Linked DNA regions of Homo sapiens. The protein of the gene in region 1 purifies or fractionates together with the protein of each later gene. This does not show direct contact. Each region holds a gene or a part of one and is shown on either strand. Other genes may lie near its edges. The genes, in order: TSPAN15 and IGSF8.

Region 1 (7,000 bases):
TACACCTGTCTTACTTTAATCTCTTAATCCTGTTATCTTCGTAAGCTGGGGATGTATGTCACCTTACGGCCACTACGATAATTGTGTTAACTGTACAAGTTGATTTTAAAACATGTGTGTTTGAACAATATGAAATCAGTGCACCTTGAAAAAGAACAGAATAACAGCGATTTTCAGGGAACAAGGGAAGACAACCATAAGGTCTGACTGCCTGCGGGGTTGGGCAAAAAGAGCCATATTTTTCTTCTTGCAGACAGCCTATAAACGGACATGCAAGTAGGGAAGATATCGCTAAATTCTTTTCCTAGCAAGGAATATTGATATTAACACTCTGGGAAAAGAACTGCATTCCTAGGGGGAGGTCTATAAACGGCCGCTCTGGGAGTGTCTCTCTTATGCAGTTGAGATAAGGACTGAAATACACCCTGGTCTCCTGCAGTACCCTCAGGATTGGGAAACTCCACCCTGGTAAATTTGAGTTCAGACTGGTTCTCTGCTCTCGAACCCTGTTTTCTGTTGTTTAAGATGTTTATCAAGACAATATGTGCACCACTGAAGGTAGACCCTTATCAGTAATTCTGCTTTTGCCCTTTGCCTTGTGATCTTTGCTTTTGCCCTTTGCCTTGTGATCTTTGTTGGACCCTTATGAGGAGTTTCTGATTTTTCCCTTAGAAGCATGTGATCTTTGTTTTCCTTTTTGCCCTTTGAAGCATGTGATCTTTGTGACCTACTCCCTGTTCTTGCACCCCCTCCCCTTTTGAAATCCTTAATAAAACTTGCTGGCTTTAAGGCTCAGGTGGGCATCATGGTCCTACTGATAATGTGACGTCACCCCCAGCGGCCCAGCTGTAAAATTCCTCTCTTTGTACTCTTTCTCTTTATTTCTCAGCTGGCTGACACTTATGGAAAATAGAAAGAACCTATGGTGAAATATTGGGGGTGGGTTCCCCCAATACCTAATGACTTGTTCTGACTTTTCATAAGTAGATACTCAGAGTTACCAGGGCCCATGGCACTGGAGACTGAACTTGTTACATTGTGGCTCAGAGAAATCCTCTTGATCAGGGAAAAATGGAATTGGGAAATCACCTCCTCCTGGAAGCTGACCTTGATTGCTCCTCACCTTTTTCTCCATCATACACTGCCCTTCCTACCATCATCAACAGCCAGGCCGCTCCTCCCCCATCCCCGCCACTGGCCTGACTCCTGTTTTACAAAATCATATCACATTAGAGTTGGAAGGGATATTATTTTTCTTTTTGTGATATTTTCCCCTTGATTATAAAAAAAAATTGAGAGCCAAGGAAAAATATAAAGGGGAGGAGAAAAATCACCCTAGTCTCATCCCTCAGAGGAAATATGAGTTCATATGCTGATATTTCCATTCCTTTAAGTCTTTTTGTAGACCTATTTTTTTCATTGTAGCGATCTTACTGCATTTATAATTTTGTATCTCATTTTTTAAGTTTTCAAGATGACGAATCATGGCTTGAGCCTCCAAACAGCGGAGAGGCGTCAGTGAGGACCCTTCCTGGGCTGCATACCAAGGCCCTACCCATGAGGGGACACCACCCAAGGGGAAGGAGCACCCTTCACGGACTACAGCATCTGCAGGGTCTGGGGATGATGAGAAATTGTCAGGCCTGACCTCAGGCCCACGGAAACCCAAGCTGTGAGCACTGAAGGGCCCCTGGATGTTCCGCCAGCCAAAGCCTTCATCTCAGCCCAGCTCCATCACTTGAAAGAAGGAGGTGATGTTCTGTTGACCTACAGGGCACTGGAAAATGACAAATCAGATGGCCTCTGCAGCAATGCACTAGAAACCAGAACTGCTGCCCATCATTGGAGGATAGTTTATGAAGGCCGTGGACGCTGCTGACCACAAACTGGACCTGGGCTCCAGCCAGGAAAGTGCTAACCCTGGAAAGCCTCAGGGCGGCCGGGAGCTCTGCTGGCTGCACAGAGAGGCAGCCCCATGGGCAAATGGAATAAAGATCTCTCCCCTCACAGCTGCTGAAAAGTAAACCAGCATCCTGGATCTGCCAGCTCAGAAGAGAGGCTCTGACAAATAGAAAAGAGGGACAGGGAGGGGCAGGTAGCAAGTCAGGACTGGGAAGCATTCCTGAGGCACCTCTGCCTTGCTGTGTGCTCTCGGGGGAATTCTTAACTCCTGTGTGCCTCCATGACTCCATTGATAGGATGGCCACTTGCCCCTGTATGAGTGGAGAAGCCACTTCAGTCTGACTGTCAAGCCATGCCTAGCAGCAGAAACCATGCCCGGGGTCACGGGCTGGTGGAGATTCCTCCTTATATCCAGGAGTCTGTTTAGTTGGCCACAAACTGGACCTGGGCTCCAGCCAGGAAAGCACTAACCCGTAGCCCCTGGAAAGCCGCAGGCTGGCCAGGAGCTCTGGTGGCTGCACAGAAAGGCAGCCCCATGGGCAAATGGAATAAAGATCTCTCCCCTCAAGGCTGCTGGAAAGTGAACCAGCATGCTGGATCTGCCAGCTCAGAAGAGAGGCTCTGATAAGCAGAAAAGAGGCAAAGGGAGGGGCAGGTAGAAAAGAGGAAAAGGGAGAAGCAGCCTCATGGGCAAATGGAATAAAGCCCCTTTCCTGGGGCTCATAAAACAGGAAGACCTCTGGATTCCAGGTTTGTAGACTTGCCTGTGGTTAGGTCCCACTGCAGGAGGCCCCAGCAGAACTGGTGTGGTCCCTGCTCCCACCTGGGCTGGAATCACAGGCACTCCCATGAACATTTTCACAGGGCCAGATCCTGGGCCATCTGAGAGGTCTGCACAACCCAGGGTGTGGGACAGCACCTGCTGCCTTAAGAGCAACTGCTGAAAAGAAAGATAATTTGGCTGGGCACAGGGGTGCATGACTGTAGTCCCAGCTACTTGGGAGGCTAAAGCCGGAGGATCACTTGAGCCCAGGGGTTCGAGGCTGCAGTGAGCTATGACTGCACCACTGCTCCAGCCTGGGTGGCAGAGTGAGACCCTGTCTCAAAAAAATAAACAAACATTATTTTTAAAAAAAAAGATAACTTGGCTCACAGCTCTGACGCATGTCCCAGCAGCAACTGTCCAGATGCACCAGGACCAAGCTGTCTGGGGTAGGGAGGGGTACAGGCCAGGCAGTGGACACAGAGAATGGGGCTTCTGCAAACATGTCCTGCTCCTCAAGCCCCACCTATGGCAGCAATGCAGGATGAGGACAAGGAAGAAGATTATGGGAGGAAAGATGGAGCCCTGGGTTGGAGTCAGCCCTGCTCCACCACCAGCTTCTTGTGGGGCCTTGACCACTATGTGCCAGAACCGTGCCCAGTCCTTCACAGGCATTCTCTCATCAGATCTGTGAGCTAGGTGTCCCCTAATAATCCAAGAGGCCAAGTAACTCGCCCAAGGTGGCACAGCTAGTATGAGGTGCGTACATCCTGCCTGAAGGAGCTGGAGCCGGGAGCCACGAGAACCTTTCTGGCTCTAAGGGGCCCGGATTCTGCAAACCCTGCCAGGGCCAGGATGCCAGGCATCACCCTGTCAACCTGCCCCTCTCCTCACTCCTCTAGCCGGCATAACAGCCTCTGATGGTACTGCCTCCAAAATATACATCAAATCGCCTTTTTGGCCCAGGCCCACTGCCTCCACCTTGGTACAAGCAATCTTACCCCATTCCCAGGATGACCCCCCACAGCCTCCCAGTTGGGCCCCTGTGTACACCCTCAACTCTTCACTGTCCATTCCCCAACTCAGCAGCCATGGTACAATATAAACTGGGTCACATCGCTTCCCACATAAGACTCTCCAAAGGCTCCTGTCACCTCTAGAAAAAACTCCAAGCTCCCAACTCATGGCCTACAAGGACCTCTGTGATCTGCCTGGCCAGCCCTTTCGACTTCACCTTCCACCCCTCTCCACCCCACCTACCCTCAGCCACGTGGCCTCCACGCTGTTTTGCTCACATGCTAAGCTCATTTCTGCTCAGCTTCCCTCTGCTGGGACCTCACTCAGCTGGCTCCTTTTACCATTTCAGCACGGGCCTCCCATCTCCTCCCCAGGCGCTCTCATGTCAGCTTGGTTCATTTTCTTAGTCGCTGCTTTACTTGTTCAGTGCCTGTCATTCTCTTTCAGCAGAATGAAAGCTCCATGGGGGTTATCTGCCCTGCTCACTGCCATACCCCCAGTTAGCCCAAGGCACCCACAGTGGGTGCTCCATACACACATGGCCGATACACAAATCCACAGGCCCACCTGGTTCCGGAAGGTCAAGGCCACCACGCCACCAATGAGCTCCATGATGAGGCAGATCCCAAGGATGTACATGAACTGGAAAACAGAATTCAGAGACTCACCTGGAGAGGAGCAGTGGGCGTGTGTGGGGTACAGGGGAGGCACCATCTGCTCCAAGAGCAAGCACAAAGAGAAGCATCCCTCGGGGAGCTCCTACCAGCTCCTAGGCCTCTGCCCCCTCCTCCTGTGAGAACGTGGACGTGGACAGGCAGGCCCCAGGAAAACCTGTCTCTGGAGCCGGAGGGCAGGAAGAGTGACTCAGCTGTCCCAGCCAAATGGTTACCTCCATTTGTCTTGGGGGTCTATGTGGAAGAGCACGCCCTTCCCCCACCACCATAAGGAGAGCTGGGCCTCGTTGCCACTGAGCCAGAGGGGCTAGGCCTGGCTTAATGGGCAGGCTGGGGCAGTATGTCCAGCTCCCCACAGAGAGCCCTCAGATGTGACTTCCCAGATCCCCCACAGTGGGTGAGGGGGATGGCTGAAGCTTAGAGGATATGCACCCCCACCTCTGCCCTTTACTAGAGAGCAGGCATTACCCAAACTGATTTCAGCAAATTCCAGCCTCAAGTAGCACCCAAACCCGGTTTACAGTGGATCGTAGGGGCTTCCCATATGAGGGGAGACAATGAGGTCAAGAGACACACAAGTGCAGAGTGAATGGATCTGCCTACTCACTACCCCCAGCTTTAGGGAGTCATCCCTCACCCCACAATAATGGGATACAGGTAGGATTGACTCCCCATGCCCCATCCCAGAATGGGCACATGGCCCAAGCCAGGCCCACCAGAGTCCTGGGACTTTGGCCAGAGCTGGTAGGAAAGATTTCCTGAGATCTAGAACCATAAGGACTTTGTTGGCCTGACGCCGGCAGTGACCACTGCAAAGGGAGCAGCCCCGGCTGGCAGGGGCTGGGGAGATTGCCCAACCCTGCCCAGTGGCGCCATCTAAACCCCTGGACCCAGTGTGGGTTTGCTGGTTGCATGAGCTAATGACTCACTACCATCTCCTTTTTTTGTCTTTGCTTGCTCTCATTTGAGTGTGGTTTTTCCTACTCGCAACTGAGCATCCAGATGAACACAGAGTTTAAGTAAGAACAGTATTCAAATCAGCTTTTACATGCAGGAGGGGAGGTGGCCTGGGCATTCTTGGGCCAGTGTGGTCAGATGGGCTGATCTAAGGAGCTCTCTAAAGGAGGTGGTTTGAGGCAGGGACAAAAGAAACTGAGCTGCCCAAGGGCACAGGGGCAGGCGCCCCAGCTCTCCTGGGGAGTCCCGGCTGAGGGGTGGTGTGGTCCACTCACTGCTTGGAGAAGGTACAGGTTGTCACGGAGGGACGCCAGCACACCAATGAAGGAGACCATGAACATGACGACGCCCAGGAGGATGAGGATGATGGCTGGAGCCAGGAAGGCACTTTCAAGGGTTTTATATTTCTGCCGCTCAACCTCTGCATAGATGCCCACAGACAGGACCAGGGCCCCAATCAGCTGCAGCAAGAAAACAGAGGGTGAGAGAGAGACTGAGGTCACTTGATTTTCTACAGCAAAGAGTCATCTGGGGCTGTGGTACCTGCTGTGGGGGAGGCTTGCCCCAGGTTACAGCACAGAAAGGGCCCTGTTAGCGGCTGAACTGTGTTTCCCCAAATTTTCTCTATTGAAATCCTAACCCCCAGTACCTCGAAATGTGACTATATTTGGAGACAGGGCCCTTAAAGAACTAATTAAAGTTAAAATGAGGTCACTAAGGTGGCCCTAATCCAATATGACTGGTGTCCTTATAAGGGGAAGAGATTATGACACAGACACTCACAGAGGGAAGACTGTGTGAACACGCAGGGAGAAGGCAGCGTCTACAAGCCAGAGACAAGCCTCGGAAGAAATCAACCCTGCAGGCCGGGCGCGGTGGCTCACACCTGTAATCCCAGCACTTTGGGAGGCCGAGGCGGGCAGATCACGAGGCCAGGAGATCGAGACCATCATGGCTAACACTGTGAAACCCTGTCTCTACTAAAAATACAAAAAAGCAGCCGGGCATAGTGGCGGGCACCTGTAGTCCCAGCTATTCGGGAGGCTGAGGCAGGAGAATGGCGTGAACCCAGGAGGTGGAGCTTGCAGTGAGCCGAGATTGTGCCACTGCACTCCAGCCTGGGCAACAGAGCGAGACTCGGTCTCAAAAAACAAAAAACAACAACAACAACAACAAAAAAAAAAAATCAACCCTGCCACCTTGATCTTGGACTTCTAACCTCCAGAACTGTGAGAAAATAAATGTCTATTGTTTAAGCCATTCAGTCTGGTACTTGATGTTATGGCAGCCCTAGCAGACTACTACAGACCCAATCTGGAGATGCCACTTTAGAGGAGAGTATAGATGGGTTAGGGGAAATGCCACTGGCTGGAGGGTCAGAGAACATGGGTTCGAGCCCCAGCTCTGCTACTTGCTAACCCTGGGCCTTGGACAGGCATTTGACCATGTGAGTCTGTGTTCTCATCTGAAAGACAGACTTGAAGACATTCATTTCTGCACTGCTCACACCACGGCTTTCGCGAGTGAATGAATGTGGAAACACTACAAACCTGGAAGTGCGAGGCCGCCACAACGCGTATTAAACAGGCAGGTCACCCCGTGCTCAGGGCAACAGACATTTCACACAGTACCATAACACGGAATTTACTTTCAGGATGACCACAGAGAAGGCCAAAGGTTGGAGCAG
Region 2 (5,289 bases), on another chromosome or scaffold:
GGGGTGAGAGAAGCAGTGAGCTCATGGCGCAGCTGGAGAGGGGAGGGCATTGTGTGGTGAGAACTGACTGGGCCTGTGCCCTTTCCAGCTAGGGTCACTGGCTCCATTGTCTCGCCCAGGTGACACAGCTGAGCCAACTAGCACTTCTGAGCAAGACTGCCAGCTCCCCTCAAGCAAAGGAGAGGGACATGTAGTCTCAGAGTCCCCTAGCCAGAAGGCTCCCCTTGCCAGGTGCTGAGGAAGGAATGGCAGACATGGAGGTGGGTGAGTGGCAGGGACAGATCAAGGTTCAGTTGGAACCAAGGCCTGGTTAGGTCAGGAATCAGATGTACTCCTTTCTGCCTTCAGGTGCTCTGCTTCTAGTCCGCCAGAAATGGGATGCATCTGGATGCCAAGGCAATCCTGGGCCCATGCCACCTCCTTGAGATCCAGGTGTCTTATATCACAGCATCCCTTTCCTATTCTCAGAACAGGGTCCAAGCTGTGGACAAGCTTTCCCAGGTCTCCTTTCCTTTTGTAGGCAGAGATCAAGAATGGTGCTTGTGGCGGCAGAGGGCATGGAATGAGGAACCAGGCATCTCCAACTCCTTCTGCCTTTCCCTACAGGAATGGGATGCTGGGCCCGGGAGGTGCTGGTCCCCGAGGGGCCCTTGTACCGCGTGGCTGGCACAGCTGTCTCCATCTCCTGCAATGTGACCGGCTATGAGGGCCCTGCCCAGCAGAACTTCGAGTGGTTCCTGTATAGGCCCGAGGCCCCAGATACTGCACTGGGCATTGTCAGTACCAAGGATACCCAGTTCTCCTATGCTGTCTTCAAGTCCCGAGTGGTGGCGGGTGAGGTGCAGGTGCAGCGCCTACAAGGTGATGCCGTGGTGCTCAAGATTGCCCGCCTGCAGGCCCAGGATGCCGGCATTTATGAGTGCCACACCCCCTCCACTGATACCCGCTACCTGGGCAGCTACAGCGGCAAGGTGGAGCTGAGAGGTACTGGGCCCTGGGACGGGGTGGAGCCACACACCCTCTCAAGGCAGAAAGTCAAGGCCACAAGTGACCTATCTAGTTGCCCCTTAGGTTTTGTAGCCAAGGAACTTGAGGCCCAAAGAGGTTAAGTGATTTGCACAAAGTCACCCAATAACTCAGTGGCTGATGTGGGACTCAAACCCAGAGTTCCTCACCCAGGCCAGTGCTCATCTTATCATATTAAGACCCCTCCTGGGAGAAGAAATGTCCTTAAGTTGTCCAGTCCACTTTCCATTCCCAAGAACGAAGAAGACTGTTGGGTTGAATAGCCTCTACTCCTGGACAGTACAGGACCCAGATCTGGGAAAGAGAGTAGAGTTAGGGAAGGAGTTAGACCATGTGACATTCTCACTCTCTTAAGTTTCTTTGTCTTCTGAGAAGAAAGAGCCGCTTTTCTCAGTATTTCAAACAGAGGTCAGTCTCAAACATAAGGGTGAGTAGGCGATGGGCTGGTTCTATGAAATTCTACAAGTATTTATTGAGCGCCTGTGCTGTGCCCAGTACTGCCCTTGGCACCACTGAGTTACAGAAGAAATAATACAACATGCGATCTTTGCCCTCTGGGAGCTCACAGTTTATTTAGGGAGATAGGCTATACACAGGAAACAGTAACAAGGGCTGCCAGCTCCCAGCCCTCCCTCACTCCAGCTGTTCTCTCCAGTTCTTCCAGATGTCCTCCAGGTGTCTGCTGCCCCCCCAGGGCCCCGAGGCCGCCAGGCCCCAACCTCACCCCCACGCATGACGGTGCATGAGGGGCAGGAGCTGGCACTGGGCTGCCTGGCGAGGACAAGCACACAGAAGCACACACACCTGGCAGTGTCCTTTGGGCGATCTGTGCCCGAGGCACCAGTTGGGCGGTCAACTCTGCAGGAAGTGGTGGGAATCCGGTCAGACTTGGCCGTGGAGGCTGGAGCTCCCTATGCTGAGCGATTGGCTGCAGGGGAGCTTCGTCTGGGCAAGGAAGGGACCGATCGGTACCGCATGGTAGTAGGGGGTGCCCAGGCAGGGGACGCAGGCACCTACCACTGCACTGCCGCTGAGTGGATTCAGGATCCTGATGGCAGCTGGGCCCAGATTGCAGAGAAAAGGGCCGTCCTGGCCCACGTGGATGTGCAGACGCTGTGTAAGTGCCACTTATACATCCCACTGTGGGAGCTGGGAGGGACAGTATCCTGGTGGGCACTGTGGCCACAGGGGGTACCAGATAGCCATCATCTGACTCCAAGGAACTCATCTTCCACAGAGTGAGCAGCCTTGCTAGCATTTCTCTCCCCCGGCCCTTGATGGGTTTTCTCTGCTCAGAAATTGGGTATAGAGATAGGAGGCCCATGCTGAGGGGTGAGATTCAAGCCCCTAAATAGAAAGATGGTCATACCTAGTGAGGGGGAGACAGGAGGTTTTGAAGTTGCTGCTGTCAAGTAGGAAACAGGAAGTTGGGGAATCGGGTGCCTCTGTGTCCCCTCCTGCCTCCATGACACCTCTTCCCCTACCTGTGTTTCAGCCAGCCAGCTGGCAGTGACAGTGGGGCCTGGTGAACGTCGGATCGGCCCAGGGGAGCCCTTGGAACTGCTGTGCAATGTGTCAGGGGCACTTCCCCCAGCAGGCCGTCATGCTGCATACTCTGTAGGTTGGGAGATGGCACCTGCGGGGGCACCTGGGCCCGGCCGCCTGGTAGCCCAGCTGGACACAGAGGGTGTGGGCAGCCTGGGCCCTGGCTATGAGGGCCGACACATTGCCATGGAGAAGGTGGCATCCAGAACATACCGGCTACGGCTAGAGGCTGCCAGGCCTGGTGATGCGGGCACCTACCGCTGCCTCGCCAAAGCCTATGTTCGAGGGTCTGGGACCCGGCTTCGTGAAGCAGCCAGTGCCCGTTCCCGGCCTCTCCCTGTACATGTGCGGGAGGAAGGTGAGAGGGGGCTGGGCCCTGGACGGGGTTCGAGGATTGTCAACCCCTTTTCCTTCTGTTTCCATGACCCCTCCCTCTCCGTCAGCTGTTTGCAGGCCACAGCCTCACGCTCCTCTTCTACCAAGATTGTGGGAATACCCTGAGTTTCCTGGGGCGGTGCTTGGCGGCAGCCCTAACCCCATGCTCCCTGGCCCTGCACCCTCTGACCCCATGTCCTTTGTTCTGCAGGTGTGGTGCTGGAGGCTGTGGCATGGCTAGCAGGAGGCACAGTGTACCGCGGGGAGACTGCCTCCCTGCTGTGCAACATCTCTGTGCGGGGTGGCCCCCCAGGACTGCGGCTGGCCGCCAGCTGGTGGGTGGAGCGACCAGAGGACGGAGAGCTCAGCTCTGTCCCTGCCCAGCTGGTGGGTGGCGTAGGCCAGGATGGTGTGGCAGAGCTGGGAGTCCGGCCTGGAGGAGGCCCTGTCAGCGTAGAGCTGGTGGGGCCCCGAAGCCATCGGCTGAGACTACACAGCTTGGGGCCCGAGGATGAAGGCGTGTACCACTGTGCCCCCAGCGCCTGGGTGCAGCATGCCGACTACAGCTGGTACCAGGCGGGCAGTGCCCGCTCAGGGCCTGTTACAGTCTACCCCTACATGCATGGTGAGTGACACCCCCTCCACCCTCCTCACTCTGCCTTCCTCCTGGCCTCTGCCACTGGCCTTCCCTTCCCATCTTCTGACCCTCCTGCTACTATCTCTCTCCTCCACATTATGTCACATGAAGTCTCAAAAAATCCAACTTCCAGCCCTGCAGTGCCCACCTGCACGGGGTCCTCTGTGGTTGATGCTGACTTGCATGCTGAGGGGGCAGGCTGTGGGCAGGGATGGGGGTGTCTGTGAATGGAGAAGGTGGGTTCAGAGAACTTGATGGGGAAAGCGCAGAGGCAAGTGTATGGGTGGAGGATGATGGCATCCTCTCTGAACAGTCATCCTCTCTCCCCCAGCCCTGGACACCCTATTTGTGCCTCTGCTGGTGGGTACAGGGGTGGCCCTAGTCACTGGTGCCACTGTCCTTGGTACCATCACTTGCTGCTTCATGAAGAGGCTTCGAAAACGGTGATCCCTTACTCCCCAGGTGAGGGAAAAGAACCCCCCAACCTTGTTTTCATTGGGCTTCCCACCCCCAAGTCCTGAACCAAGCTGCTCCCTCCCAGGCCCCACCTGGAGGAGGAGTAGGCAGCTCAGATCCACAGGGCCCTGTTAAGGGGTGGAGGCCGCGAGGGAGCCCCACTCAGGGCTCTCTGTCCTTAGCCCACACCGGGCACCCTTTTCAGGTCTTGCAGGTGTCGACTGTCTTCCGGCCCAGCTCCAAGCCCTCCTCTGGTTGCCTGGACACCCTCTCCCTCTGTCCACTCTTCCTTTAATTTATTTGACCTCCCACTACCCAGAATGGGAGACGTGCCTCCCCTTCCCCACTCCTTCCCTCCCAAGCCCCTCCCTCTGGCCTTCTGTTCTTGATCTCTTAGGGATCCTATAGGGAGGCCATTTCCTGTCCTGGAATTAGTTTTTCTAAAATGTGAATAAACTTGTTTTATAAAAAGCAGGCTTGGCTGTGTCTTCCCTACCATGAGACTGTAAAACGCTCAGGGTGCATAGTAGGGAGGTGGTTGGGGATTGACAACCTATTCTGGATGACCCAGGCCTCTCTTCCCACCACAAACACCATCTGGCCTCCATGGGCCATGCCACCCACCCCAGGAGGGGACACCTGGGTTCCATCTGCAGCCTGAACTGTCGGGGCTGAGACAACTCCTGATTGGACTCCTACTTGGGGAGGGAAGCATAGAAAAGGAGGGTAGGTTCCAGCTGCCTGTGGTCACCCCCGCACCAGCTTCTCCCATGTTAAAGGGCATGGGCCTCCAGGGGCAGTGCCTTTTCTGAGCTTCCCAGACTTTCCCCAACTCTTCCCACGTCTCATTCTCCTGGTCAGGCTAGTCTTGGACCTGACTCCTCCCACTAGGCCCTGGGGCTGAAATTGTTGTTCCTTCTGACCCATAGCAGCAGAATAGAAGCCTCAGAACACAACTGATACTCAGGCTGGGACAACAGGCAGTCAGGGGAGGGCCTGTGTGTCCACAGAGCCATTGCACCCACATGTACTCGCTGTACCTGCATATACCCTCTACCCGCATATACCCACTACACCTGCATATACCCGCTTCACCTGCCTGTACCTACCCTGGGGTCTCCTCCCTCCCACCCTTCAGCTTCACCCCTCCTCCAGTGCCCCAGGAGTTTCATGAATTTTCTTGCCTAAGGATTCTCTGATCCTAAAATTCTTACCTGCACGGCACCTTAAGAGGCATCTGGCAGGCCTCC

Evidence for each region.
Region 2: the proteins of TSPAN15 (region 1) and IGSF8 purify together in Homo sapiens (co-immunoprecipitation; 2 studies listed by BioGRID and IntAct, with this or other methods). This does not show direct contact.

Annotation. Positions count from the first base shown.
Region 1 is NC_000010.11:69,482,465-69,489,464, reverse strand, and holds part of TSPAN15 (tetraspanin-15), read right to left. Parts: intron 5,775-7,000; coding exon 5,589-5,774; intron 4,325-5,588; coding exon 4,250-4,324; intron 1-4,249. UniProt on the Homo sapiens protein: Part of TspanC8 subgroup, composed of 6 members that interact with the transmembrane metalloprotease ADAM10.
Region 2 is NC_000001.11:160,090,564-160,095,852, reverse strand, and holds the end of IGSF8 (immunoglobulin superfamily member 8 precursor), read left to right. Parts: exon of another isoform or gene 1-432; intron 433-606; coding exon 607-984; intron 985-1,681; coding exon 1,682-2,143; intron 2,144-2,521; coding exon 2,522-2,929; intron 2,930-3,157; coding exon 3,158-3,571; intron 3,572-3,914; coding exon 3,915-4,030; 3' UTR 4,031-4,045; intron 4,046-4,221; exon of another isoform or gene 4,222-4,244; 3' UTR 4,245-4,510; downstream 4,511-5,289. UniProt on the Homo sapiens protein: Member of the immunoglobulin superfamily (IgSF) that links tetraspanin-enriched microdomains to the actin cytoskeleton and plays several important roles in innate and adaptive immunity.